2 separate regions of the Homo sapiens genome follow, and region 1 is linked to region 2. The links come from fine-mapping of genetic effects on gene expression. A gene starts in region 2. The other region holds a variant in brackets. All regions are shown on one strand. Distances are from middle to middle. Region 1 overlaps CDC42EP4 (CDC42 effector protein 4). Region 2 holds the start of CDC42EP4 (CDC42 effector protein 4).

Region 1 (2,896 bases), 22 kb before region 2:
AACTTGGATTATCTCTGGGCCCCACCCTCCTGCCCCACCTCAACCTCTAAACAATTAGACATTGAACCGCTAGACCAAAGGTCAGCAAACACTTTTTGCAAAGGGCCAGAGAGTAAATATTCTCGGCCTTGTGGCTGATAGGGTTTTTGTCACAGCTACTCAACTGTCTTCTTAGTATAAAACTAGCCGTTGGCCGGGCACAGTGGGTCACAACTGTAATCCCAGCACTCTGGGAGGCTACGGCAGGAGGATCAGTTGAGCCCAGGAGTTCCAGACCAGCCTGGGCAACACGGTGAGACCCCATCTCTACACAAAATCAAAAAAAGAAAGAAAGGAGCCATAGCAACATGTAAACAAGTAGGCATGGCTATGTTCCAATAACATTTTATTTACAGACAACTTCTGGGTTGGTGAGCAGATCGAGGTGCCAGGAAGGTGGTGCGTGCCCTGCCCCCCACCCCAACACTTGACCCCACGCATCCTCATGCAGCTCTTCCGTTTGGCTGTTCCTGAGTCGTATCTTTTGTAATAAACCAGTAAAAGAAAAAAAACCACCAAAAAGCCACATCTTTATTTACAAAAGCAAACGCAGGCTGGGTTTGGCCCATGGACTGTAGTTTGCTGACTCCTGAATATCATATATGACCCTCTTGGCCAGCCATGGGCTCCTAGGCAAAACTCTGAAGAAAACAGGAAGGGAGGAAGGGAGGGAGGGAGGAAGGGAGGGAGGAAGGGAGGGGAAGGAAAGGAAGGAAGGAAAGGAAATAAGGAAAGAAAAAAAGAAAGAGAGAAAGAAAAAGAAAGGAAAGAAGGAAAGGAAAGGAAGAGAAGAAAGGAAGAAAGGAAAAGAAAAGCAAGGAAGGAAAGAAAGAGAAAAAGAAGCAGCAGAAGAAAAGAAAAAGAAAAAGAGAAGGTAGACTCTGCCTCAGTCACGTTGGGCATAGAAGGGAAAAAGGCCAAGCTTCAAACGAACTCTCGTTCCTGGCAAATCCTTCAGGCTTCTACTGCCACCAGCAGGGACACCAGTCAGGAACGGAGGGGACCCCATCTTCCACCTGCCTGCACCCCGACTCCTGGCTCTACGCACAGCATCCAGGAATCTCAAAGAACTGGAGGGGATATTCAGTGCAGCACTTTCACTTTATGGATGAGGAAACAAGTTTATTGAAGGAAAGTGATTTATCCAGGTTTTTAGCCCAAAGCAACAGAGCTGGGCTAGAAACTGGGTCTTTGAGTCCAGAGCTCTCTCCGCTCCACTCCAGGCCCTTCTCCAGCTCTGGCGGCGGCATTGCTGGTCAGTGACCACCGACCACTGAGTGCTCCTCCCCACTGCTGGCCGGCAGGGTACAGAGAAGGGGGTACCCAACAGCTGCTTCAAGAAGGTTCTTGTGTAATCCTAGAGCAGGTTCCACACTGTTGCTATTTGGGCCAGATAATTTCTCATCGGGAGGTGGACCTGCCCTGTGCACTGTAGGATATTCAGCAGCATCCCTGGTCTCTACCCATTAGATGCCAGTAGCATCCACCCCCCAGTCACAACAAGCAAAACTGTCTCAAGATATTGCCCAATGTCCCCCAGGAGGCAAAACTGCCCCAGTTGAGAAAC[A/G]GCAGCCTTGAGTGAGAACACACAGGTGAAGATAGAGCAGGTATGCTCACCAGGTAAACAACAAAGACAGAGAAGCAGGGAGGCGGGTGTGGATGGTCAGAACCGGGTGAGAACATGGCGGCACGAGCCCCCAGAGCTGCGTTAAGGGTTTCAACGCCAAGGCAGGAACCCCCAGACCCTGTGAGTGATGTCAGGTCCTGTGGTTTCCCGATCTTATACGCTCATTAGAGAGGAAAGAAAGGGAAACCACAGACCCGGCTCCCCAGGACTCACCAGAGAAGCTGCAGGTCACTGTGGCTGCCCAAAGGGACCAAATATCCTGGCCATGATGGCTACAGGGGAGGACAGCTCCCCGCATCCCATTAGCCACACCACCCAGCACATCCTTGCGGGTAGAACTATTGAGGTAGGTCAGAGGGGACAGCAGGGAAACTCAGCTGAAATCACGGCCATCCTGGGCTAGCCCTGGGGTCCCCAGGATCTTGTTCAACCCCACACCCCAGAAAGACAGGGACAGGTCTACCCAGTGCTGCCTGCTGCCACGGTCTCGCTTCCTGGGGGGTTGGGAACGAGACTTTGTGGCTTGTAGAAAGCCATCTTCAATAACCAGCAAGGAAGGGTCCTGAGAGAGTTGGGGCCTAGAGGGAGTCACGCATCTGTCCCACTGCCCCAGCGAGGAGGGGGCTGCAGTACCTGGCAGTCCACACTGGGGATGAGGCCTGGGTGTCTGGAGCTCAGACTAGACAGGCCACCCAGCAGGATTGAGGGTCAGCAACAGCTTGGTTTCACCAGCCTTGAGTGACCTTGAGTCACTCTGAGCTTCTAACAGAGAACAGTTTGGAGGTGACGAGCTGGATCATAGAGTTTAAGAGAAAGTAGGTGGTGGGAGTCTCGCCAGAGGCCTGGGCAGGTCCTGGGGGCAGCTATGGTTTGGGAGGCCACAGGGCATTGTGGCTTTGGGCGGGGCTTTCAGAAGCATGGTGACTCAGCTCTGGGGAAGTGGCTAAAATAGGCTGCCCAACGTGGGGCAGGCACTCCCCATAGCCTGCCTTGGGCGGGACACCCCCACCCCACCCCAGAAACCACATCCCACTTTCTTGGCAGGGAGAGGGAAAATGGATCACAGCTCACAGCCCTCCCTAGCTCTCCTGAGCCTCCGGAGGAACAGATTCCTCTACCCTCAGCCCACTGACCACGGAACCTTCCTTTAAGGTGGGAACGAGGAGCCCTCCCCAGAAGGTCAGGCCCCTGCTTGGGTCACAGCAACCACACCTTTAGTTCAGCCCTGTT
Region 2 (2,896 bases):
CACTGGGAAAACACAGGGAACCTGGTTTGAGTTAGCAGCGAGCACCCCTCCCCCAGTCACACACACACACACACACACACACACACACACACACACACACACACACACGCACTTCAGTCCTCTCCCAGGAAGCTGGCTCAGCCTCAGCCCCGGCTCCCGCCCAGCTCTCCAGCCCTCCCGGCCGGGGCACTCACCGGCTGACGGGATCCCCGCGGGCAGGATGGCTCCTGGGGGACGCGCCGGGGGCAGGGGGCAGTTTTGTAACCCCGGCTGGGGGCGCTCCGGAGAGGGGGCGGGGCCAGGGACGGCCGATCCGCGCGCACCCGCCCCAAGCGGGCGATTAAATCATTAACCGACCGCTCCCGCCTGCGATCCCGCTGAGCGCGCTGAGCTCGGGGCGCACTAGCCCAGGAGCGGCCGTCTCCCCGGCTCCAAGGGGGCGGGTGGCTCGACTGCCCTCCCCCCGCACCCCGCCAGGAGGCGCCTCGGCCTCCCGGGCTTCCGAGGGAGCGGGCGGGGCGGGAGCCTGGCGGGGGAGGGAAGGGTTCGCGGGGCGGGAGTAGGGGAAAGGAGGACCATTTGTTCCTTCGGCCATTCCCTTCCAGACAGCTCCTTCCCTCTGGCTTCCCGGCCGGGTGACATTGGGTGGCGTGTGCTGCAGTGTGTGTACGAGAGCGAGATGTGTACACGCCTCTGCCCGTACAGGCGGAGAATTCGGTTCTTATTCATGGAGAACTCCGGGCGCACACACGCCCCCCTCGCGGAGATCGCGGGCCGCGCGCCGCCGATTGCTGCGCTCCTGCCCACACCGACACACACCCCATTCCTGGGAAGGGGGAGGCCCTTTAAAACCGGCCCCCAACCCCCTCAGCGGCACCCTTGGCCAGGGCCGGGAGTTCCAGCGTGGAGAGAGGAAATGGAGTCCCGGCAACGCTGCGCCCGGCTCCCTGCCACCTCCTCCTCCACACATCCCGCTCTGCCAGGACACTAGGTGCGCAGCTTAGGGTCCCAGGCACCGCGGTGGGCGCGGTGAAAAGCGCGAGCGCCGAGAAGTGGGGGCTCCGCGCCCTTCTCCCCGCGCCGCGGCCTCGCATCCCCAGCTTCGATCCTCTCTGCCCCACAGGGGGACTCGAGACCCCCAAGCCCACCCAGGGCACCCAGCGCGAAGGCGGCTACCACAGACAGAGGCGGTTGCCCGTCGCCTACCTCGGTCCCCGGAGACCCGAGCTCTGGGCCGGCTGCGCTGTCCCCTTCGTGGGCTCCGCGCGGCGGAGGGGCTGGCGGCCCCTGTCAGCGCCGGCGTTTGTTTCCCTCTGGCTCTCGGGCTTTCAGGGCTGGGAGCCTCCAGGACACTCCCCTTCCAGGCTCCGCCCGCGCCCGCCCCGCGCAACCCTCCCCGCGCACCCCTCTGCGCTGATGTCACGGCGCCGCAGCAGCCAATGGCCGTCGGGAACCTCTGCCCGACTGCTCGGCCTCCTCGGTTCAAACTGAAAGCCTGAGACTTTCCCAACTCCGTATGGGGCAGCCTGGGCCCGCCCGGCTTCCGGGAGACACTCCCGCCCCAGCCTGCGCTCCGGCCGCGAACCCCCACTGGGGCCCCCAGGGCCAGGGGCGCGTCTCCCTCCGGGGGCCTGGCGCGAGGCTCTTTTGAGGCTCTTCCCCATTCGAGCCGGGGCAAGAAACCAAGAACTCCAGCCCGGGTGGCGTTCCTCGTTCCTGCTCCCTCCCGGACCTGCTAACCACCTGGCTGCAGTACTGTCGGGAGATGGGGCAGGAGGGCTGGCGCCACCAGCTTCGTGGGTGCCATCCCAGACTCTCGCTGTAAACGAGGGAGCGGGGAGGAGCCGGCCAGCCCCGAGGCCAGGCTTGGACTGGGCGTCAGAAATGTTTCTACAGGGTGACAGCCCTTGAGCTCCCCGCATCCCCGTCTGTGCCTTTGCCTCCTAAGTATCAGCTGAGGCTAAATTTGCACCAGGTGAACGTCAAGGAGGATCAACTCCTGAGTCCCAGAGCCTGAATCCAAGTCCCAGGCCTTGGACTCTATTCTTTTTAGAGGAATAGTTTCAGTTGAAATGATCATTATCAAGGTAGAATGCCAGCTGCGAAGTAGTCAACTAAAGTGGACAAGGCGCAAAGTGAAAAGTTCCCTTGCCTCTAGCTGAACCCCACCCTCGGTTTTTAAAGGAAGTGAGGGTGAAGGCCCCAGACTTTCCCCATGGCTGCGAGGTCCCTAAGCCCTCAGGAACATTCTGCTTTCTGGGGACAGCACATTTCCGTTTCCCTCTGCAGTGCGACAGCAACCAGCTCTTGAGAGCTAATGGTTTGGCCACTCCATCCTGCTGTGAAAATTAAGTTCTGGGCTGGGCGCAGTGGCTCATGCCTGTAATCCTAGCATTTTGGGAGGCCAAGGCAGGTGGGGGGTCACTTGAGGTCAGAAGTTTGAGACCAGCCTGGCCAACATGGCGAAACCCCATCTCTACCAAAAATACAAAAATTAGTCGGGCATGGTGGTGGGCGCCTGTAATCCCAGCTACCCAGGAGGCTGAGGCGGGACAATCGCTTGAACCTGGGAGGTGGAGGTTGCAGTGAGCCGAGATCGCGCTATTGCACTCTAGCCTGGGTGACAGAGGTAGACTCCATCTCAAAAAAAAAAATAAATGAATAATAAGTAAAATCAAATTCTGAACTGGACATCTGGAGGGAAAGGTAGGGTTTGGAGCCACTTGGGAGGCAGACACTGTGGATTCAAACCCTGGCGGGGTTATCATGGATGTAAACCAAAAAGTGACTAAGGCAGATCTCAATCAAATAGAGGTTTAGTTAGCCAAGGTTGAGGATCCACCGGGGAAAAATCACCTTTTTTCCAAAAAGGTTTTGGGAACTTCTGTATTTAAAA

What was found.
Region 1: its variant is fine-mapped to the expression of CDC42EP4 in whole blood (TOPMed, PIP above 0.99).

Annotation. Positions count from the first base shown.
Region 1 is chr17:73,289,025-73,291,920 of GRCh38, forward strand. All of the region lies in intron 1 of CDC42EP4 (CDC42 effector protein 4), which reads right to left. Among named protein-coding and RNA genes, the nearest start is that of CDC42EP4, 22 kb to the right of the region's middle. RefSeq lists enhancers at 1,902-2,121, 2,412-2,491, 2,466-2,760, 2,744-2,896, 2,892-2,896. The variant A/G (reference allele first, on the strand shown) is at 1,607.
Region 2 is chr17:73,310,687-73,313,582 of GRCh38, forward strand. CDC42EP4 (CDC42 effector protein 4) reads right to left here and starts at 1,315. Exons shown (of 2, transcript NM_012121.5): 1 at 1,207-1,315. RefSeq lists silencers at 64-193, 204-753, 1,204-1,463, 1,534-1,693.